Regions from separate parts of the Homo sapiens genome. Here all the other regions are linked to region 1. Evidence: fine-mapped expression QTL. A gene starts in region 1. Each other region holds a variant in brackets. All regions are shown on one strand. Distances are from middle to middle.

Region 1 (8,193 bases):
TAAAGTGTAAGAAGTGACAGCATAGGCATGGTTAAAATCTCAGATTCTGACCTCATCCTGGCTCCTCCACTTACTACCTTCAGCATTAGCTCAATAAACCTCAATGCTTTGTCTATAAGATTATGGTGACAATTACATTTAGTTAAAAGATTATAAAGTTTCGGCCGTACACGGTGGCTCACGCCTGTAATCCCAGCACTTTGAGAGGCCGTGGCGGATCACGAGGTCAGGAGATAGAGACCATCCTAGCTAACACGGTGAAACCCTGTCTCTACTAAAAATACAAAAAATTAGCCGGGCGTGGTTGCAGGTGCCTGTAGTCCCAGCTACTTGGGAGGCTGAGGCAGGAGAATGGCCTGAACCTGGGAGGCGGAGCTTGCAGTGAGCCGAGATCGCTCCACTGCATTCCAGCCTGGGCGATAGGGCGAGACTCCGTCTCAAAAAAAAAAAAAAAAAAAAAAAAAAGATTATAAGATTTCAACGGGATAATACATATAAAATGTTTAACTAGCACCGTGTCTTACACATAGTAAAGTCTCACCAAAGTAACCAAATGTAGTAGTACACCCTTATCTATGGCTTTGCTTTTAGTTACCTACAGTCAACTGCAGTCTGAAAATATTATAGTATTTTGAGAGAGAGAGAATGAGAGAGAAAGAGAGAGAGAGACATTCACATAGCAATACACTGTTTTATTTTATTGTTAGTTATTATTGTTAATCTCTTACTGTGACTGATTTATAAATTAAACTTTACAATAGGTACGTACGCATAGGACTAAACAGTCTATATAGGCTTTGGTACTATCCACAGTTTCAAGCATCCATTGGAGGTCTTGGAACATATCTCCCATGGATAAGGTGGGCTACTGTATTGGTTTAAGTTCCTCAGATTTCCTGGACTACCTGACATTAGGCTCTACAATTCTTTCATACATGCTACTTCAATCAGCAGCATGCTTAGCACATAGCATGTGTTTAATAAAAGTTAAATTTAAAATAAAAATCAAGATTTCCAGTTGAACTGAAGCTAGGGAAACCTACACATATTTTGTGCGTTAGTTTGTTTGGAAACATCGTCTCTACAGAGAGTATCTGATGACATGGGAGATGACATGATAGAGTCAGTCTGGTGGAGAAGATATCTAGGCCTTCATCAGTCCCAAATCCACATTATCCATGTAGGGCTGCTTTTGTAAGATCAACGGAACCCATGTCATTGATGTAATGCTCATTACTGCCAGCATCCTTACTGTTTTTGAATATCTATGTAATAGTTGTTTTTCTTATATTATTTCACTGAATTCTTAAAATGCCTTAATGGAGATGCTCTTATTCCTATGTTAACAAGAAAGCTGAGTCTCAAAGTGGTTCTATAACTTGTTCAGTGCCACACACTAGTGAGTGAAAAAGCCATGACTAGAATGAGGGCCACAGAGAGCGGGACAAGCCTTTTTGCCGGGGAAGATAAGCTAAATGTCTCCCTAGACAGGCAGCCCTACATCCTATTGGGTCTTATTGATATCCTGACTTGCTCTAGACTTGTCTGAAACCCTGGTTTATCTGGCTTCAAAGCTTACGAAGCTTCCACCAGACCAGAGGACCATCATTTGAGTAGTGATGAAATATTCTCCAAAAAACAACAACAAATGCGACAAATTATCAGGGACCTTAGAGACTCTCAACATAAATCCCAGTTTCAGAAATTGTGTCTCAAAAAAGTAAAGTCTTAATAAATATTAGGTTGGTGCAAAAGTAGTTGTGGTTGCCATTAAAAGCAATGGCAAAACAGCAATTACTTTTCCACCAACCTATAAAAAAAAACTAATTGTGATTCATCACTACAATAGAAGGTAAAATGTATACTCACGTTACCATGGAAATAAACATCATCAGTTTAAAAATTCTCACAAAACTTGTGACTTCTCTACAGGACAACATGGTTGTGCATCCTAAGTGGAACGTAATTATTTTTGTCAGAAAATGATCTTCACATACATACCAATCATTCCTTGGGACAGGGTGGGGTTCATCGGTTTTTGGAAATGTTACTGTTTTCAAGTTATATATAAATACTCTAAATTGTGTCTGAGTGTCCAGCAAAATGACAGTATTATCTTTGATGTGCTATCAGTGAGCTACTGAGAAAGAAAATATGTTTCAACAAGATTTATTTATTAGATTAAGTGAATATATTAACATTCCATGGGTAAAATTACAGAAGACATGGTTAGGAATAAAATTTCCTCATCTCCTTGATGTCTTCGTCCCTCATATTAAGTCCTTAATTTGCAGAGTTAGCAACATTCTTAATTCCTTGTACAAGAAATTTTCTTGTGGAAAATAGTTTTACCTGTTAGTCTCCACACGTATGTCTGATCTTTGTGATACGGTATCAGGCATCCCCTGACCTGTTGGTTTGTCATCTTTTCCATTTTATCTTTTCATCTATTTTGCAAACTCATCAAGATGACTTCCACTTTCCAGCTTCTCCATTATGTACCTAAGGGTTGTCCTTAAATTTTTGTCCAACCTAAAAAATAACAATCACTAAATGATAGAACTCTATAATAACTAAACGATAGAATGATAGAAATAATTTCCAGCATTCCTGTCGGAGTGATAGAAATCTCCTAGCCTACTTTGAAGCAAATCAAAAGCAACTGTGAAGTTAATTTAATGAAATTATTTTCTCTTTTTGAGGCCCACTGTTGCAACTTTCCTTATCTCCAAGCTAGTAGAAAATGCTGTTGCTTTGTGGTCGTTTTTTTCAAAGGACTTAGGGAGGGATCATTTTCTCTAACCAGCTCATCAAATTCACAGAGGTCTACAGAAGTGAAGTGACGTGCCCAAGAGCTCATGGCAAGTAAATAGTGTCTTAGTCTAAATACTTCCAGAATGAGTATTCCTAGACCTTGTACTTATCTCATTGTCCTATGCTCAGGCAAACGTTTGCAAACAGCAGGGAAAACAACTGCAGATTGAGACTTGAGGGAGAAGGGTGGGAGATGGTCCTTAGCAGATCCCTGGGCCTGGGGATCACCTGCTCCCTGGGATCAAAATAGTGAAACAAGCTATTCATAAGTACATCAAGGACGAGTAGGCCATTGTTTTCAGAACCAGCTGTGGAGAATCTGCTCGACAGTGGCCTTGGAACAGCTGCGGCTGCTGCACCAAGAAGGGAGGGCAGGAGGGCGGAGCGGTACTGGTGGAAGGGTGAGCTAGGAGGAAAGGCTGCAAGGACCCTGCCACGCCACCTCCCGGCAAACCAGGAAGTATTTTTGCAGTAAGTGCATTGGACTGAGCCACCTTTTGAACCTACCCGAAGTGTTAACAGCGCACAGCAGGCCTTAGATGGGTGCAATAACTGCAAACTCTCAACGGGCTGGTGCCTAAGAGGCTACGGGCTGGCAGCTAAATAGAGCCCGGCGCAGTGAGTCGCGTTGTCCGAAAGTACACAGAGTGGAGCCAGCCGACTGTGCTGTCTTTGCAAACCGTGACCGAGCAAAGTCCGCGGTAAACAAGCCTCGCAGCAGCTGCCTCCGGATGAGCGCCCCCTGCTCATTCCTCCACCCAGCATTTCCCACGCGCCCAGCGCTCCGCTCTGCAGCCCCTGCCGTCCTCTCTCCCAGCCCCATTCTCAGATCGCCCCATCTTTTGGCCCAGCCCAGGTCCCAGCCCCCGCGGCTGGCGCACCACACTCACCATCTCTTGCCTGAGGAGGTGAAGCTTGGTTTCTAGCCTCTCCAGGGCGCTAGAGTGGCTACCTCGTGGGGAGCCAGAGGTTGGGGAGGACGAAGAGGAGGACGACAAGGAGGGAGGGAAGCTGCAGTAGCTGCTGCTGCTACTGCAGCCGCCGCCGCCGCCGCCACCACCACCGCTCCCCCCGCAGGGGTCCCTGTCCCTTTCCCTGGGAACCGGCTCCTCCCCACGGAGAGAGCGCACTAGACTCTCGGGTACTTTGCGCCCCAGCTTCAGCTCGATGTCTCTGAGGTCTGGCAGCGGGCTGTCTTCCATGACTTTTCCGGAACGGCGATAATAGTAATAAAACGCAGCAGATGAAAGGCAGCCACGGCTTCGAAGGCTGCTGCGAAATCAGCAGACCTCTCCGGGGGCCAGGGTCTCTATCCTCCGCCGCTCCGGTGTACCGTCCTTTCCATAACCGCCTATGCGGTATCAGCCCTGAAATCCGCACAGGACGCGGGGGGTCGCAGCTGCAGTTCCCAGTCCGCTGCGACTCCTCCGACACTAAGATGATCAAGATCTCCTCATTCTCTCTCTTTTTGGCCACCTCACTGCAAAGTTGAGTTCACTGATATTGCAGACAGAGGGGGAATAAAGAGGGGGAAGTAGTGAAAGAAAAGAGAGGGAAATTAAATCTGTTTTAGCTTTACCAAGGGAAAATTTTCACATTATAAAACCGTCCGTTCACATCCCTGCGCCGCTCACTGACTGCCCATCTGGTACTACGCGACACAAAATAATGATGCAGCCAGAAACGATGTCCTGGGTCGTTTCATTTTCCAGCCATATGCCTCCAAGCTTTCGGGATATCCTGGGTTGTCAGAAATAATCTCTGGTCAGTGAAAGAGGAGTTCGGTCGTGTGCATGGACCCATAAAAAAGAGCTAGTTAGCTTAGCAGGAGTTTAACGGCTTCCTTGATGCAGCAAAAATGTCCTTCTTCCCATTTAGGCTGTTTGATCCAAGTCATTGTGTTCCTCTGAGCCTCGGAAACTTTAAACTCCGCTGGCAGGTGGACCAAACCAGGACCAACCCTTCTACCGTATATCACAGACAAGAAGAGCAACCGGAATTTTCCCAACCCTGTCGCTAGTAGCAGAGTTTCAAAGCCCTGCTTTAGTTAGGAATACCAGTTGATTTTTCAGTTTTCCTGACTAGCTACAACCTTTAAAACAGGTTTTAAAATGAGAGATAGAGGAATGACTTTATATTTGGTGTCTTCGTTTCCCATCTCTCTACCTTCCTCAAAGGAAAAACAAACAGAAAACCTCTCTTTAGAAGACTTTCCTAATAATTTTATTCTAATAAAAAGAGTGAAACAATTTCATCAAAAGTTCAATGGAAATGTACAATCAAAATTAATTATCCTACCAACTGTTACAGTATGCAAACAAAAGTGAAAAATTAAATAGCCAGAATAACTTACATGACTGCTGAGATAGCAGTGAAATTTTAAGAACAAGCAATTGCTGAGATACTTACTTTTATTTTAATTATGGAAGAAAAAATATTGGGAATAACTATTTAAAATGTTGTCTTCTTTGATAATTTATCTATAAATTAATTTATAGATTTTTTCAACTATACAAATTGTACAATTAATTGTATAGTTGAACAATTGTACAATTTATTAATTTGTACAATTGTACAATTCATTAATCTGAAATACTTCTACCAAGTAAGTTATTATGAGCTACATGGATTACAGATCTGAATCAGCATTGAGTTTGTGTCAAAAATGTTTAAGTAGAGGATACTAATTTCAATCCAGTAAACTACAATTTTTGATTTCCATTGAAATATTTCAAAGTATGTGCCCCTCTATTTCTGTGACATATAAGTATTTGTGTTCCTGGTCACTCCGAGGCTCCATTTCCAGAGACATCATTCAGGTTTTACACTTGTAGGAACATAGGTATATACATCTCAGAGTTTGTTTTTATCATATCTGACTCTAGGAAACCTTATACGTAGAGGAAACATACGCATTCTAAATGAAATATTTCATGTCAGGGAAAAAATGCTGAACTTTCTATCAACATGCCAGAAATTTGCATGCTATTTCTCCCTTTTAAAAAGAAATGAAGAAAATAGTTATAAGTTAGATGACCCATTTCAAAGTTAGAACTACCACTTACAGAATCAAGGGAAAACAAGACCAAATCCCAGCTAACTGATAAAACTACATGCTTGGTCCTAAATTTGGAAAAACACAAGCTCGTTGCATAAGAATTGCACTGTGGCATGTAATTATGAAAGGCTTGTGTTTCAGTCAAGAACAGTTTATTATTACAAAACCCTTACAAAGTTCAGCATAAGGCTGGCTAAGTGCAGTTTATAGATGAAATATCTAGCTAGAAATTGGTCAGTAAAAAACAAATGTCAAATTATCGTGTGTCAATATAGAAAAATGGGACACCTCTTCTGCTATGAATCACAGACTGCAAAATCAGTATTTGAGGCTGAGGATAATTTAATATATACGTATATGTATGTATATATGTATATAGTTTTTTAAAGAAGTCTGCAGGAGAAACTCCTCTGAGAGTAAAAGTGTGATGTATATGCAAAGTAACTTTGTTCCAGTGAAATATAAAAAAATGTAAACTTTTGAAGGAAAGCTTAGTATGTCAAGCTTTAAATTTTTTTTCGGTTAAATGCCTATTGACATTTTAGTTTAAAATGAAGACATTTTGAATGATGCTTTAGCTAGTTTTCAGAATATATTAAAATCATTGAATGTTTATGGATCTATAATAGATTGTTGTTAATGCTACCATAACTGCTTTATGTGGTTTAATCTGAGGACATTTCTTACTCAAACTATTTGAAAACTTTTTTTTTTTACTTTGGTTCTTGAGCATGTGTTTTGTTTGTTTGTTTTCAAGATTCTCAAGAAACTGAGTCAGCCTGGGCAATATAGCGAGACCCCACCTCTTCAAAAAATTTAAAAATTAGCCAAGCATGGTGGCATGCACTTGTAGTCTTAGCTAAGGGGTTAGGGGTGAGGGAGTGAGGCCAGAAGATTGCTTGAGTCCAGGGGTTCGGGGTTGCAGTAAGCTATTATCAAGCCACTGCCCTTTAGTCTTTGAGACAGAGTGAGAAACTGCCTCAAAAAACAAAAACAAAAATAAAAACAATAAACATACAAAAATGCCCACAAACAACAAGGACAAAAATGTGTGAGATGTTTTACCAATTGCTCTTAGCCTGAGAAGCTAATTACATCTTGAGTTGGGGAATCAGTTGAGAAGACTTTGCAGTAATGAGTCCAGGATGGGGGTTGGGGGTAGCAGTGAATTCAGCAACAACTGGGAGAGGGAACATAGGGAGAACTAAGAAAGACAGAGGGAAAAATTCTTGAGTCATATCACTCTTAGTAGCACTCCCTCATTGCTCCTACTTTTCTGGTCCATCTCCAACTACCTCTGTTTCTTTGATTAGTAGCATTTGCCATGCCAACAACCACCTAAACTCGCAGTGTTTCTCCAAGTCTAATAATACATTGCAGAGTAAAATTGTAAAAATGGTTATTGTATTGTTTTTATTTGTGATGTAATTTTTTATACTTCATTATATGCTTCCTTTTAAGACCACCATATGTATGAGCTGGATTTGCCTTTTTTTTCTATTCAAAATGCATAAAGAATCTAAGAATGAATGTTAAACTATGCAGGACTTTAAGAGACTGAGTTTCTTCCCTAGCTATGTTGTGTACACGGAGAAGGAAAGGGAGCCTCTTATTTATCATTAAAAAGAAAGAAAAACTAGTGGCTAATTAAATAGGAACATTGTTGGACTCAGATGACAGGTTTTGAAAGAATGCCTCAGTCACAACAGACTGATGTGATGCACGCTTCACACATTCCACACTTAGAACATTTCCTGATTTGAGACACAATACTCACAGCAAGAGTAGACTCAACAACGCTTCATGTAGTGTGGGTAACACCACTCCTTAATCTGTTGCTGGCATTGTGGTTAAAAGAAGAAACACCTTCCACCTTCTTTCTGGCACTGATTGCAAGTTTGCAGCATTCCCAACTCTTGCTGTCACAGAGCTCAAGGGCTAGGACAGGGTCTCTTACCTGAGACTCCACTCCCCACAGTGCAGAATAATGTCAAGCAGCCAACAGCCTCAAATTATGCCTAAGAATTTTAGGAAGTCACTATTTAATAAGTATCAGGTTCTTTCATTGTTTGTTTTTAAATGTGTAGAGCTGCTGCTTCTACAAATATTTTTGTTCAGTTTATATGCATAACAAGGAAGATGTTATAGCAAAGCTAAAGAATGTTGACCCTATCCATATACAGTGGAATTATATATCTGCTAAAGTTACTAAGGTTTTATCATGCTTATTTATAGAGTCATTTAATTTACCTATAATTTTGTAGCTGGCTTGGGTCTGTTTTACTATGTGAAATCATCTACTTATTACCAACTTGAACCAC
Region 2 (8,193 bases), 99 kb after region 1:
TATTAATTGCTAAAAGAGAGGTAAACAACCAAAGCAATGAGAATATAGAGCATGGAATGATTGATTTTGATTAGTGATATAGGATCATTATTTTCTGTAACAAATTATTGATCATCTATGTGCCAGGCACCGTGAATACAATAAAAAGGGAATACAAATATGTACAATGCAAAAGTGGCCCTGGTTGCAAGAAGCTTGCATTCTAGTTGAAGAATCAGGATAAACACACATGCGCGTGCACACGCGCAGACACACACATACATGCACACACACACATACACACACACACACACAGAGAGAGAGAGAGAAACAAGTAAAAATATAAATCCCAAACCCTGACATTTAAATAAACAGAAATATACATTAAAAACATTACAAGTTGTGATATGCGATTTGAAGGAAACACAGGGATGGAAGGAAACACAGAGGCTAAGGAGAGGGATTGAAACTTTATTTTTTAACTAGGTCAGGAAGGTTTTTGCGTAGAGGTGGAATTTACTACAAAATCTGTTTATGATAGAGTGTGCCTTTACATTGAATTTAAAATTATATCCTTCATCTATCATTTGTAACACAGATAATTAATTTCTTTTTATTTTTTTTTCATTCCCACTATAGAAAGAAGCAATACTTGATTTTCCTTGACCCAACTTCCTTAGTTCACAATGTCAAGGTCAAAATAATATGTAGAGATAAATATCTAAAGTTAACATTTTATGTTGGAAATCACAGAATCACAATTTGTAGCATACACACACACGAAATGGTCTTCAGTACGTCCAAAGGAAAAAGAGGAGTTTGGAAGTTTTATCAGAAAGGAATATGTTATATATTGTTTTAAAAGAAAGTTCATGGGCACCAATAAGGTTTTGGAAGCAGGCATTATGTAAAACTAGTCCTAGAGTTGCAGCAAGTTATATCCGTGTCTACTGCGTAAAACTGGTCTTAAGGTTACAGTAGGCAGTTTCTGCAGCTGCGTTTGTGGAGAATTAAATTCTCTCTAATCTTTAGTGGGAAACCATGGTTGGCCCATTTACAGAAGGTCCCTTGAAGATTCCAAAATGAGAAACATTCAAAGAGCCACAGATATTGGTATGTCATATAATCAGACACTGAGGGTGGAAATCACAAAATTGCAGTTAATTTCCTCTGAAGCTTGTGGGCATCAGGATTTTACATTCATTGTCTTAGCTATTGACAGTTTTATTCCTTCTGCTCCTCACTTGTAAAAGCAGTCTGTATTCTTTTGGCTTTCTCCATTAATTTGTCATAATATAAATCTTTATATACATATTTTACATTTTCTTCTTAACTCAATAACATTTCTTATAAAAAGGAATTTGATATTAAGAAAACTGGAGAAGCAATGTTTGCTATTTCTCAGTAACTTGCTACCAGAATGTTCAGATAATTTTTAGAAGATGATGCTTTTAGACAGCAATTATTTGTTAAATGTCTGACATATTATTGAAATAATAGTTTTGTTTGTTCTTTCTTTGTTTCTTTCTTCTCTCTAATTTGAGTCAACCAGGCTTTGGGAATCTTCACCCTAACAGTAGGAATAACCTAAAAAAGACTGTGTTTCTGAAAGCCGAAGCCAACTGAAGAGATTCTGTTTGATTTACTGGCAAGAAAGAAAAGTCAGTGTATCCTTATGAAGCTAGATACAATAGACCTTTAGAGTATCAGGCTCAAAGGGTTTTTAAAATCCAAGTTTCTGCCTTTTAAGTCAATCCTTATCAAAAATGTCAACAAATCATAATTCATTTAATTTAAGATTTATGGTCCATCATTCTTTTATAAGATTTGAATCAGCTTTCAAGAATATAGATAAACACTAAATGTTGATATTTAAATAATAAATTGACAAGACTAGACAGTAAAGAAATCAGAAGATTAAGATGTGGGAAACTAAGAATGCATATGCTCATATATGAAAATCATAGGCTTCTAAAGAGTTCACAGTATTATAGAATGATTGATCATTTTAAAGTTAAGAAACAGATCATGCTGTCCCCTGTTAAAGATACTCTAATGGCTTCCCTTTACACATGGAGTAAAATCCTAATGAGTGGGGCCCACACTTGATTCCTGCCCATCTCTCTGATCTCCCTGTTTATTCACCAAGCTCCAATCACTTTTGTAGCCTCCTTCTCCTATTTTCCAACAGCCAAGGTTCTTGCCTTCCTGAGGACATTTGTACTTGCTGTTCCCTTTGCTTTAAAGCTCTGATATTGAGCTTTGGCAGTTGTCTGAATTAGTCAGGACTCAACTCTAATACGTACTTTTTATTTTATTTTATTTTATTTTATTTTATTTTATTTATTTTATTTTATTTTATTTTATTTTATTTTATTTTATTTTATTTTATTTTATTTGAGATGGAGTCTCTTTCTGTCTCCCAGGCTGGAGTGCAATGGCTCAATCTGGGCTCACTGCAACCTCCACCTCCCGGGTACAAGGAATTCTCCTGTTTCAGCCTCCCGAGTAGCTAGCTGGGACTACAGGTGCCCGCCACCACGCCTGGCTAATTTTTGTAATTTTAGTAGAGATGAGGTTTCATCATATTGGTCAGGCTGGAGTCAACCTCCTGACTTCAGGTGATCCACCCGCCTCGGCCTCCCAAAGTGCTGCGATTACAGACGTGAGCCATCGCGCCCAACTAATGCCTACTTTAAATGGTATATTCTTTCAATCATGTTGACTTATTTAATTATCTTTGTAAATCTCTCTCTACTGAAAATATTTTGCCCATGTGTTTCATTACTTATTTTATATCTTTCTTTCCACCCTCCATGCCCACAAGAATGGATGTTCCACAGAGAAAGTTCCTTACCTATCATTTTCACTATTGCATTGCCAGTACCTAGAATAGTCTGTGAAATATAATAGGAAAATATAATAAATAAATATGATAAATATTCACTGAATCGCTGACTGAGTGAATTCTGTTTTCAAACAATAGAAGTAAAAAGGGAAATATAATGTTATAGACTTTTTATTGTCCATTAAAACAAAAAGTTCCCCTGATGGGAGATCAAAACTTTCTTGTCTACAATAATAAAGAAATTTCTCTGAAGGGGCTTCATATTGGGACAAAAACACTGTATTTCACAATGTCCTCAACAATATCTCCAAGGCACTCTTTAAAAAATTAGTTACTTATATAGTTCTCCAGCTAATATTTGAGCCCATCAGGTCCAGGCAATGAAGCAGGGATTTTTTTTTCTCATTTTATGGGCAGCTTTTAATGTTCTGCCATACAAGCACATTTAGCCTTTCAGTGACTTCTGCTCCATCACGTCATGTATAGCATCACAAATGATAAGAACAGCCCCAACTGTGACAACACTGTGGCTGTCACCTTTCCCAATCCAGTTACTCTAATTTTTCTTCTCCATGGTAATTTTGTAATTAATACATATACAAACATATGTATATGTGTACACACACACACACACACACACACACACACACACACACTGCTTTTAAATCATTCCATTTCCAGATATATTCCTATTCTGTTGATATTCATCCAACATTCTCCCACTGGTTAATGTTGTATTGAAATTGAAGTACCCAGAAGTGTATCCCATTCTTCAAATGTGTTCTTCCCAGCAAAGAATAATATGGGAATTCCAGCATCATTCTTCTATAGCATATTTTTCAACTAACCTAAAGCCTAAGCTTGTGTTGTATTTTTTGACAGCTTCCTCATCCATTGAGATTATGGTAAATTTAATCCTTAATTCTTTACTCATGCAGTTGATTAGAGAGATCTCTTGTATCAACTTGTTTTACCTTATATTTCTGATTTTGGTGTTTGATTATTCCCTTTTATATTTTAGTTGCTAAATGTTGTCAATTTTTATAGCATGATGAGGTGCCTTATTATTCTAATCTATTAATTTCCTGCTATTTATATCCAGCTCTGTGATACCTGTGAATTTGATTTGCA[T/A]GCCACTATCTCTTTATTCGAAAATTTGACATAATTTTAATAGCTAAAGTTAGAGCATTTTACAGAATTTCTTATCTATATGGACATTGTTTGCTTAATGCCAACTCATTAAATAATCTATCAACCCACTGAAAAACCACTTAACTAATTCAGCACTCATTATTTTAGCTATTACGAGACAAAATCATGAGTATCAAAATGACTTATTCAAAATTGGTCACACAATGCTTAACATTTTTACTATAAAGATGTAGAGATTAAAATAAGGAATTGTTCAGAAACATTAAAATGTTTCTGAAAATTGTGCACATGAGAAATTGTATGACAGATGAATACAATTTAACTAAAAAATAATGATTCAGATTATGACTGTAGTTTCTTTTTTAAAAAAAGATAGAATACACTGCCCTTAATGATATTAGTACTTGATTAGAAACATTGCCACTGATGCCAAGGAAGAATAAAAATTAATATAACAACATTTATTGAGCACTCATCATGGGCTGGGTACTGTGAAAGTGCTTATAAATGTTATTTAATTTCCTCACAACTCTATGAAGGTAGTCTTTTTTACTATTGTTATTTTCCATATGAATAAACTCATAGAGATTTTAAATGAATTAGTTATGTAAAATATATATCTATATAAATGCAGGCAAATACATAAACTTGAAGTCTTATTCAGGTCCTTAATGAGATCTGCAGTGCCAATATCTTCTAACTACAAATTGTAGTATGTTGCACAGGGGTCAGATCTCAGAGAACATCTAATCCAGCTGAACCTCTTTACGTATAAAGAAACTGAGGTTCAAAAGACATAAAAGGAATTAATCATGTTGACCAAGTTAGAGAAGTTCCAATGTAAGAAAATTAAAACTATTCTACTTTTTAAGAATTGGAGAAAATGCCAAAGAAATATATACGAACGAAAATAACTGAATGAATTCCACAAATGCAGTTCTCATGGATGCTTGATAACTTAGCATTGTTCATTGAGCCAAGTGACATCAGTCATGTACGTACGCATATGTACGAGCAACCCATGACTTTCGATACAAAGAAGGCAGTATTTTCCTTTCCTCAGAAGTTTGAAAGTCACCAGTTTAAACTTTGAAAATGTATTCTCATAAATTTAAGAGCACCATGTCTCCTCTTTTCTAATTAAGTTTTTTATGCCATAGCCAGGCACGCAATCAGAGCCTATCCCATGAATAGTTACTTAAGACTTAAAGTCACTAAGTTTTTTATCCTCCACATGTGACTTGATCTCATGGACATAGAGAATAGAATGATAAATACCAGAGACTGGGAAGGGTGGGTGGGAGAGACTAGGGATGATCATTAGTTATGGATACAAACATACAGTTAATTAAAAGAAATACGTTTTAATGTTTGACAGCAGACTAGGGTACTATACTTAGCAGCAATATTATGTGTATTTTAAAGTAACTGCAACAGATGACTTGAAATGATGCCAACATTTAAAAATGATAAACACTCAAGGTGATCGATACCCTAGATACCCTGGCTTGATCATTGTATATTCTATGCATGTACCAAACACTCATGTACACCTCATAAATGTGCAAAAGATTACATATCAATAAAACAGGAAAAAAGTGAAAAAAAGGCATCAAGAAGAAAGTAGCACCTTGAAATAAGTGCAAACAGTTGGAGAAACAGATTATTAATTTTAAAGACAATCTGCCAACTGCTTAAATGACATCTCACCTTCACATTGTTCATTAATTATATATTCACAGCCTTAACTTCTGGAGATTAATTAATGCTGAGGAACAACTATAAGATATACAACCCATATTAGTTGTTTAAAACGAATATGGTAAAACCATTATTTTTAAAACTGAAAAATAAATTCACTGTATATAACTCTAGACTGGAAGTGTTACAATGTTGAGGACAGTGACAAAAAAACATAAAATAATAAAAACAAATATTATGTTGGCAGGGAAAGGCAGGTGTAAAATCTACACTGTGTTAATTATGTCTTATTTGATGTCTGTTTGGGTATACATTACAGATAAACCTTCTATTCAATGTAAATAAAAAATTTTACGTAAATATATGACTGCAGTAAGCGTAGTTTTCTGAGACTGAGCTCTGTGCCATACAAAATAATGTTTTGCGTCTCAATTTGATGACAAATCTCAGTACTCTGATAGCCTTTAAGATTCTTAGGAATGTGTAAGAAAAATTAGGTTAATCCTACTCCCAATTCTTTTCTATCTACCATGGAACTAGGCCACATAGAATTTCACTATTATAACAAATAGTTTCAGACATTTTCCATCTATAAATGGCAAGATGCACTTAAGTTCACACAGTAATTAGGATCAATGAAGACCATTAGCATTTTAAATTGCAGTAGATCACAGGAAAATGCTAAATTCTTCCAAATGTATTTCATAAAACTCTGAAAACCCTAATCCCAAAAGCACATACAGATAGCACTTAAAAACAAAACTACAGAACCATCTCATGTAGGAATATAGGTACAAAAACATCCAAAATAAAATAGCAGCAAATAAATTCCAGCAGCATATTGAACTACATAAATTTTAATAAATAATTCATTTAGTATATGCAAATGGGAATTTAATTTTAGGAAAATGATTAATATATTCTATCAATAAGTAAAAGTAAGAGGTATTGTGGAGTTCTTAGTAAATGCTTAAAAAGACATTTAGGAAAATCTAATACCTGTTTTTGGTAAAAATATACTCGAGCTTAGAACAGAATTTTTCTTTAACTTCAGTAAAAACTGCATATTTAAGTCAACAGCTACCACTGTAGTTAAAAGTGAAACATTTCAGTAATTTTTATTAAAATTAAGATGAGGCCAGCATGGATAACCGCTACTATGAACATTGTTTTAGAAGTTCTACCTAATGCAATGAGACAGGAAATAGAAAAAATATATATATATCTACAGTAACATTAGAGATAAGTTTTTGATGCTGCTCCTGCGTTGATGGTAACAATATAGAAGAAAATCAAGTTAGATATTTATTTTGTTTATTATATTGATAAGAAAAGTAGATTAAAATAGTTCATGTAAAATGTAAATATTAAAAAAGAGGTGAATATTTGACATAAATAGGCAAACACTTTTCCAATACAAAGCCTTTTTATTAAAGGGAAATTATTTATAAAAATTACAGACAAAAGCACACAAATTGCACTTACAAATCCATGAGAGATACTATCAATTGACTAATAGGAAAAATTTTTGCAAAGACAGGTTGAATAAATAGAGTTTACCAATGAATTTAAGAAAATCTATGCAATCTCATAATCAATAAAGATAATTTTAGATGTTACTTTTTGACTGCAACATTGGTAAAGCCTTTAAAAAAATAAAGCCTTCAGTGTGTAATGCTGTCCACCTTCATACAGAGCAGACAGGCATGTGAATATTTATAAAATTCTTCTTAAAAGTAATTTTGCAGTATATATCAAAAACATTAAACTGCACATAAAATGACTTATTTCAAGGACACTATATTCAGTTGTCAAGTACATATAACATAATCAAGTATATGTCACATAATTATATAAGACTTCCATTGCATTTTTTCATGCTAGTGATAAATAATAAACATAGTTTCAAAAATAGTGAATTAATTATGGTAAAACCATAAGAGCCACTGCAAGTTCCCTGAGAGCAAGTGACTTCGTCTGCCCTAATCTCAGCTCTATCAGCTGAATCTAGAATGGACAGAGTATGCCTTGAATAACTATTTGTTAAATGAATTGGGAGAATATGAAAATATTAATAATTATGCTTGTGAAGATTGATGTAAGAATAGTTAAAACATCAAGCTACATGAAAACATGATACAGATTTTATATGGAATGAGATCTCAGGTTTTAAAAATCTGTTATTTACATTTAAGTAATAAGGTGTACAGAAAAATAAAAGTATTAAGTATTGAAGTGATAGTTTTACAGTTTCCTAAACCATGTTTCTATTTTATACATTTTCCTGCAATACACATGCATGTTTAGTGCCAGGAAAGTATAAATATAATCGTTCAAAATTTTAGATTTATATTGAGCTAAATATAATAAATACAACACTGTTCAAAAGGAAATACTGTAAGTGCTATGAGGACAGGACCATGTCTCTCTTGTTCACTTTTCTCTCTCAACAACTTAGCACATTGTCTGGCTCGGAGCACATGGTCAATATTCATTCATTAAGTGGATGAACC
Region 3 (8,193 bases), 67 kb after region 1:
AAGATATAACTGAGGGCCAAAAAAGTAATAGCTTTTTATTTTTCACGCGTAGGACAGTCAGATATTTTAATGGACTCCACTTAGACTATAAAGCTTAGATCAATTTGCAGCACTCACATGCAATGGGTGCTTATGCAACAAGAAATGGGTGCTTATGCAACAGTTTTCTTGTTTGTTATTGTTATGTTCAGGCTTTCTGTTTCTTCTGAAATCAGTCTTAGTATGTTGTATGTTTCTAGGAATTTATCCATTTCTTATAAGTTATCCAATTGTTGGCATATAATTGTTTATAAAAGTTTCTTCTGATCCTTTTGTTTCTTAGGAACACATTTTAATGCTTCCTCTATCATTTCTGATTTTGAGTCCTCTCCTCTTCTTAGTTTAGCTAAGGGTTTGTCCATTTTTTTATTTTTTTAAAAAAAACCCTTAATTTTCTGAATTTTCTCTTGTTTTATTATTCTGTACTTATTTCTACTCTAATTTTCATTATTTATTTCTTTCTGCTAACTTTGGGCTTAGTTTGTTGTTCTTTTTCTAGTTCTTTGAGGTATAAGCTAGGTTGTTCATTTGAGATCCTTAGATTTCAACGTAGGCATTTATTGCTACAAAATTCCTTTTTAGTACTTTTGCTGGATCTTGTAAGTTTTGATATGTTGTGTTTTTGTTTTCACTTGCCTTGAGATATAATTTAAATTCCTCTATGATTTCCTAATTGACCCAATGGTTATTTAAGAGTGTATTGTTTTTTCGTCATTGTGAATTTCCCACTTTCTTGCACTATTGATTTCTAATTTTACTCAATTGTGATCTTAAAAGATCTTTGAAATGACTTTTATCTTTTTAATGTTGGGGGGACTTGTTTTGAGGTCTGATGTAATTTATCCTGGAGTATGTTCCACCTGTGTTTGAGAAGAACATGTTGCTGAAGTATAAGAATATTCTGCTGCTGTTGAGTGGTATGTAATGTATATGTCCCTAAAGTCCAACTGGTGTACAGTGTTGTTCAAGTACTCTCTTTCTTTATAGATCTCCTACCTGGATGTTTTATACATTATTGAAAGTGGAATATTAGATTCTACTACTAGTATTGTATTGATATCAATTTCTCCTTTCAGATCTATCAACATTTGCTTTGTATATTTAAGTGCTCTGATATTGAATATGTATATATTTACAATTGTTATATCTTGTTAAATTGACCCTTTTATTATTATATAATGAACTTCACCTCTAGAGGAAGTTTTTGACTTTGTCTATTTTGTCTGATAGGATAGCCTCCCCTGCTTTCTTTTTTTTTTCTTTTTACCATTTTCATAATATCCTTTTCCATCTCTTTACTTCCAGCCTATATGTATTTTTAAATCTAAAGTGAGTCTCTTATAGACAGCAAGTCACTGGATCATGTTTTTTGATTCACTCAGCTACTTTAAGCATTCTTATTTGGGATATTAAGCCATTTACATTAAAATAATTACTGATTGCTGAGGACTTACTAACTGCCATTTTGTTAATAGTTTTCTGTTTTGCTCTTGTTTTAATCCTCTCTCTCACAGTCTTCCATTGTTAACTGACATTTTTGTAATGATTTACTTAAAGCTATATTTATATTATACTTATAATTTCAATATTATATAGTATTTATAATATAAGCTGTATTTATTTATTTATAGATGTGTACAACTTTATCTTATAATTATGATTATTTAGAATTAATGCTTTGAAACAAGGCTTTCTCCTCTCTCCCACAATCTATTCCATATTAATGAGTTTCTTTGCTTTTAACCATTCCAAATTATTTCTCATCAACGTTATTTGTGAACAGCACCATCACTACTATATTTATAAATATACAGCTTGATTATGACTCTCCCTGTTTCCTATTTCCCATGGAATTAATTCCAAGTATTAAGAATTGCATATAGGACACTCTGGTTTTATTTCCAATTTATCTTTTTACTCCCCTCCATAAAAACTATACTGTAATCACACTGACCTATTTTATATTTTAAAAAGTTCCATGCTCTTTTAAACTTCTGTGCCCTTGTCCATGCTGTCACTTTTGAATAAAATTCCCTTCTCTGCTTCTATATTTGGTAAATCCATTGGCAGTCCTTGAAGTACAAGTCAAACATGACCTTCTCAATTTTACAATTCTTATTTTCTTCTCTCTAAATCTATAGTGCCTTGAAATACTTGATATCTAGTATGTGCTTAATAAATGTTTCTGAAATGAGTAATTAGTAAGTCTACAAAAATATAAAGTGAAGTATTTAGTTTCATTGATGTTCTATATAAAAAGGCATCTTACATTACACAGTAATTTCTTTGAAAAGCTGTGAGTATACTGTATTTTAACAAATCGCAATGTATTCCAAGAGAATAAATTGAATAATGCTAGTGTAAAACATCCTATTGTTATATGCATGCTCTTTGATATATTTTATTTGTTTATCTTGTGTATATATAGCCTTAATATTTTTGAATATAGGAAAACCCAGTAACCAATCAGGGATACATAACTTAAACTTGTTTCTGTTTGTAGAATTTAGAATCTCAGTTTAGCCATTTTCTATAGTGCATGATTATTACTGTTATTATTTATTTTTACCAATTTTAATTAAAATATTCACTTATGACCACCTTATACAGTTCTTTGGAAGATTGTTTCATAGCACAAGATCAAAAAGAGAAAATATATTTCATGTTAGAAGAGAAGGGAAAAAATAGCATTCATATAGAACCAGATAAAAAAGAAGACCAATGAAATAATATGTTAATATTTTACTTGGAAAATACATAAAAGGCTGATAAATGATAAGATAATGCTATTTAAATTAAGCACAGTGATTGGAATACTATTTATAGAGCAGTATAAAACATGTTCTCCATATGCCTTCTCCATGGACCTCTAAGATGTTAGAAGAGACATTAGTAGGTGAAATGTAAGGATAGGTAGTTCCTTTTTCAGCGAATTGAGAGGCAGGGAAACACAGTGGCAAACACAGGCAATATCCATTGTTGCTTAAGAAAGTGAAGATTTTCCCTCTCCAAAGTTTGACAAAGATGGTGATTTTTGTTGTAGCCTTGAACCTGAGACTAAATAGTATATGTTGACTAAATAATATATTTGATTGGTCTTCAAACTGGAACATTAATTTGAAAAGGTTAATCAAAATTTCATTGGTTTATAACTACACATAATTAATTTTCTTTAATTAATAACTGTGGTTTTCTTTAAATCTGTTGACAAATATCCATGAATGGAAATGTGTTTATGTTTTAACATTTTAGAAATGCCCATTCATGTATTTTAAGTGGACATTTACTATCAAACATTATTTTCCTTTACACGTAAACAAAGCATGGTAGTTCACTTACTTATATCTTCACATACTCAACCTTTAAATCATGCCAAAGATCTTCACACTATCCTTAAATATCATGGAGTTTAGTGTCATTCACCATTTTAAATAGAACTGAAAATTAAAACCCATTGAAAAGATTCTGAAAGGGTCTTCCCAGCTTTGAAAAGTATGCCTAGAACTTTAATGCTAACATATGCTTGTATTAGAAAGAAGGTAATAAAGTGAAAGAAAATACAGTTAATAACTCAATCTATTATATTCAACCAGGTGGTTTTGTGATACTAATGCATAAGAGAGTAGGGCATTTGTTAGACCACAGACTGATTAGGATTCTGGAGTTTTTCATATTCTTCAGCATAGCATTGATACTGATCAGTGAGGAGAGGCTGGTTAGCTTCATCCATACTGCGTCTGGCACGAATCAGATAAGAAGCAGTCCCAAAAATGAGTGCAACCAGTAACAAAGCGCCAACTACTGCTATGGCAATTATCTCAGGTACACTAAACTCCCGACCTATTTGGAAAGGAAGATAAAAATAAAAAGACAAATATTAAAATAGTTATCACCAAAAAGTGGACAGATGAAATTTAGAAATGTCTATTTTAACAGAAATCCTCATATTTAATTTACATTGGCCACATGGCCTTGAAGCCACTTCCTGATTTCTTTTAATGAGTGGACCCTATTGGGATAGTCATTGTTATTTCCATTTCATTTTGTGAAAGTGAGAGAATGATGACTCAATGAGTCTGAGTCACTTACCCAGGTCACTTGGTTGGTAAGCAATAAAGTTGGCTTTGGAGCCCGGATATTTTAGAATATAAGTCTTGTACTTTTCCACTATGCCCTACTGCCTTTGTTGGGGAAAAGATTTAAACAAAAAACTTTTGAACTTCAAAATCTCAGAAAAATACCTAAGAGTATCTCACTCCCTTTTCCTTTAAGATAGATAAATGCAGGCAATATGGTATAGTAGAAAAATTGGGGCATATTCCATGGGCCTAAGCTCAAACTCATTCTCTTCCCTCATTAGAAATGTGAATCTGTAACAGTTAACCTATTTAAGCCTCAGCTTCCTTATTTGTGAAATGAAGATTTTCATACTCACCCCAAAGCATTGTGAGGATTAAATGAGATAGGGTGCTGTACAATAAGATCAATATCAGCTTAGTGTGGACTCTCAACAAATATCAAATTCCTTCCCTTATCCTCAAATAAAAGTACAAATGAAAGTTTCCAAGTCCAAATGGAAAACATAGCTTCAGAATACCGTGATTACTCTACTTGAAAGATAACACATTTGCTTTTGGAAATTATCACAGTAAAAATACACTTTCAACACTCACTTGGCCATTGAATTTCATAAGTGTATCCCAGGTTGTCTGGAGCAGTAACAAACATTTCTGTGTTGGTGACTGGGGGCCAGAATGGCACCATGTTGTATTGTCTATTATGTCCAATAGGGGCATTTTCCAATGGAAATGTGGATATATCTAAATTATTCCAAAGACAACGTATTAATAAACATAATAAAATTAATATTCCTATCATTATTGAGTTCTAAAGGCATCCAATATTCAAGGAGAACCTGAAAAAATTTTATTCTTATTTTACACTGAATAAAGATA[T/C]GAAGTTTCACTACAGCAGGATGAGAAATTACATAAAACAGAAAATGCTTTGAATACAGTACCAATATACCACTTAATAAAAAAGAGAGTTTAAAAGCAGGGGAGTTTTAGTATTTCATCACCTATGGTGATCTTGAATAATTTTTAAAAATTACATAAAGCAATTTGAATAAAATTCATTAAATGTATTTTTCAAAGCCAAAGAAAACATAAACCTGTAATTTGCTGTGGCATACAGCTCTGCCTCCTGTTATCCCTTTGACCTTACTATCTCTCACCACTCTCTCCCCAGACCCCACTCTACTCCAGCCACAGTTGGCTCCCTGTTCCTTTGTCTTAGGACATTCTTCTTCCATATATCTACACAGTACTGCCTATCCTATTTCCTGATTTTATTTGTCTATAGAGACTTCCACCATCTAACATGCTGTATATGTATTTACATATGGTTATTGTCAATTTTATCAACAGGAAGAAAAGTTTCAGGAAGAAAATTTGTTGGTGAATTTTGTATAGCATCGTATTTCTGGTACCTTGAATACTGACCAGGAAATAGTAGATTTGAAAATAATATATATGAAAAGACTTAAGTGTACGTGTGATTACTTCATTTCTCTCACAGCTCAAAAAGTAAAGTAGTGATCACTCTTGGAAACGTATAAACTGCTTCTTCTGAAAATACACTGAACTTCTGGGCTGCTATATTTAAAACTTAATTCATATAATTCTCAGTTGAAATAAAAGAGAAGGAATTGAATTGAATGTGTATATAGATCAGAAATGTTAGTAAATAGAAATTAACATGGTAGTAACTAGAGTTTGGATGCTCTCAATTGTACTATTTCATGTCTAATGAAAGGAACCTGTAATGGACATTAATATTTGAATGACTCCACTTTTCTTTATCTGTAAAGTGTAATTTTTGTTCCTTTCCAAGCCTAATAATTCTATTATTCTGCAATTTGTAAAGAGCTTTCTATATTTGTAAAAACCTTTCAATCATTTTGAAAAAGAATTCCATCCCTCCACTCCTAGACTTATTTTAAACAAGACTCTTGCTTTACAGACAGTTTTATAAATTTTTTTAATCTTTCTAATTTTTCTTTCTCTTCTTCACAGTTGTTTTATGACACTGATTTCTAAAACGTATTTGCAGGTACAAGGAATATTTAAGAAGGAGGCTAATTGTTTCAGCTTAGCTTTCATGCAGTTTGCAAGTGTTTACATTGACCTATCCTATAATTTTATGGCCACATTTTATCAGAAATGTGCTGCAGGGTAGTTTCCTATTTTTTATTTACGGTATTTCTCTTCCCACTACAATTCAAGTTACTGAGAAACCTTATGCTACACATATTGCAAACAAAGAAAATGTCAGAAAAAAATGTTCAAAAGGTATTTTTCTGGTTCATCAATGACCTTTAAGTTAAAATCTGGAGAACCTTTAACAACTTGCTATCAATGTGAAATAATTATATTTTCAGCCAAGATACACAAGGTGAAGGAATATCTTTCCTTTCTTTCATAGGTGAAAGAAAACTCCACTTAAGAGACTTGCCAGGTTACTGAATAGTCTCCATTTCCTCTAAAAAGTTTACTAACACCCACGGCATTGTGAATAACTGAATAAATACAACTTGAACATTGCCATGTAGTTCCCAGAAGTGCATGTTTAACAAAAGCTGGTTTTGTTAATTCCTAAACCTATTAATTTGAGTTTACTCATTACTGTAATAAAAGTAATCTAGTTAAACAAACATAAAGTGGTCATCATGACTGTAAAACAAAGAGAAGGATGTTGTTTTTATAGTATGTAAATTGAACATTTTGGAAAGATTTGTTAAAGGTGTATGGCTAAAATATTTGCCCTCATATTGTATTTCAAAAGTCACTCATTTATTGTTTCACTTTTAAAAAAGCTGACAGTGTAAATTATAGATTTATGGTTGTCATTATGTATATAAATACACATGAAAATGAGATGAAACTGCAATAACTGAATTCATAACTGATTGAAAACTAACTCTGTCTCTGTCAGCCAGGCTAGAGTGCAGTGGTGTGATCTTGGCTAACTGCAACCTCTACCTCCTAGGGTCAAGTGATTCTCCTGCCTCAGCCTCCCCAGTAGGTGGGATTACAGGTGCCCATGACCATGCCTGGCTAATTTTTGTATTTTTAGTAGAGACGGGGTTTCACCATGTTGACCAGGCTGGTCTCAAACTCTTGGGCTCAAGTGATCCCCACATCTCGGCTTCCCAAAGTGCTGCGATTACAGGCTTATGTGTAAGTTGTTTCTTAAATAATTTTTGATGGAACAAACTATTTTCATCAATTTCATCAATTAATGGTCCTAATTAGGTTGGATTAGAGGACGTTATTGCACACATACACACATAGAAATGAAAGCATGCCTAATGGATACATAAATCAATAGGTAGTTAAGCTACAATATCAGGTTTATGTGCGTTATGAGCTAAAGGCACAAAAGCCAAAATTTAGAATGCTTTCAACCTATGAAAATTTGCGATGTTTTAACCAGTGGAAGCACTTTTATTGTTTGAAAAATAATGCTAGCCTCTCAGCTGCATAGGAAGGCAGAGAAAGAGGCCTTTTAAATAGTATTTTAAAGAATGCATTGAAATGAACTTAAAAGAGATTTCCTATAGTGTGATATAAAAGCCAACATTAACTTTTCAAGTGGAACACAATTTCTATTTGTGAGGGGCCATTAAGTAATAAAAATAAGAACTGTGGATTATGGGTATAAAATTTTTAGTCTTTTGGGATATCAAAGAAGAGCTCTATAAGGTTTTCCTCATTTATATTTAAAAGTAATGAGAATTTATGTTGGAAGATGAGGGTAAGAACAATTTGTGAAACATAGTAGCCATTTTTTCGTAGCAAAAATTAGGAGAGATGATTTGGTTAGTCCCAGCAAATGGTTAAAAATATCATCCTATAATAACTATTTGGAGAGACTTCTTGCCTGCATTTTCAAAGTAGAATTGAATGTCTGGAAGTGACTTGATATTACAGCTATGCTATCCTTATTTTGAAAGTGTTTTTATGCGCTGAGTGCTCAGCTTGAACTGATAACTATGCCATCTAAACAATCCGCCCAGCTGAGCATGCAAAAGGCATATGAAAATGTCTTACCAGCATTGTATCTCCTCAGCCATTCATCAAAGACTGCATCTGT

Alleles and levels. Positions count from the first base shown, and alleles are read on the strand shown. Sizes are in standard deviations (SD) of each study's normalised expression. Not every link is listed here.
With allele T in place of C in region 3, the expression in skeletal muscle of the gene that starts at base 4,712 in region 1 is higher (moderate effect, 0.49 SD a copy in FUSION).

The links. PIP is the estimated chance that this variant, and not a neighbour inherited with it, causes the effect.
Region 2: its variant is fine-mapped to the expression of LURAP1L in spinal cord (GTEx, PIP above 0.99).
Region 3: its variant is fine-mapped to the expression of LURAP1L in skeletal muscle (FUSION, PIP 0.95).

What each region holds. Positions count from the first base shown.
Region 1 is chr9:12,771,539-12,779,731 of GRCh38, reverse strand. It overlaps LURAP1L (leucine rich adaptor protein 1 like), which reads right to left and starts at 4,712. Exons shown (of 2, transcript NM_203403.2): 1 at 3,705-4,712. The coding sequence starts at 4,016. All of the region lies in intron 2 of LURAP1L-AS1 (LURAP1L antisense RNA 1), which reads left to right.
Region 2 is chr9:12,672,072-12,680,264 of GRCh38, reverse strand. No RefSeq gene overlaps it. Among named protein-coding and RNA genes, the nearest start is that of TYRP1, 17 kb to the left of the region's middle. RefSeq lists cis regulatory regions at 4,981, 5,001 and enhancers at 4,909-5,053, 4,929-5,073. The variant T/A (reference allele first, on the strand shown) is at 3,959.
Region 3 is chr9:12,704,663-12,712,855 of GRCh38, reverse strand. It overlaps TYRP1 (tyrosinase related protein 1), which reads right to left. Exons shown (of 8, transcript NM_000550.3): 6 at 8,151-8,193; 7 at 4,713-4,859; 8 at 2,571-3,879. The coding sequence ends at 3,674. The region is part of intron 3 of LURAP1L-AS1 (LURAP1L antisense RNA 1); the gene reads left to right. Among named protein-coding and RNA genes, the nearest start is that of TYRP1, 15 kb to the right of the region's middle. The variant T/C (reference allele first, on the strand shown) is at 4,995.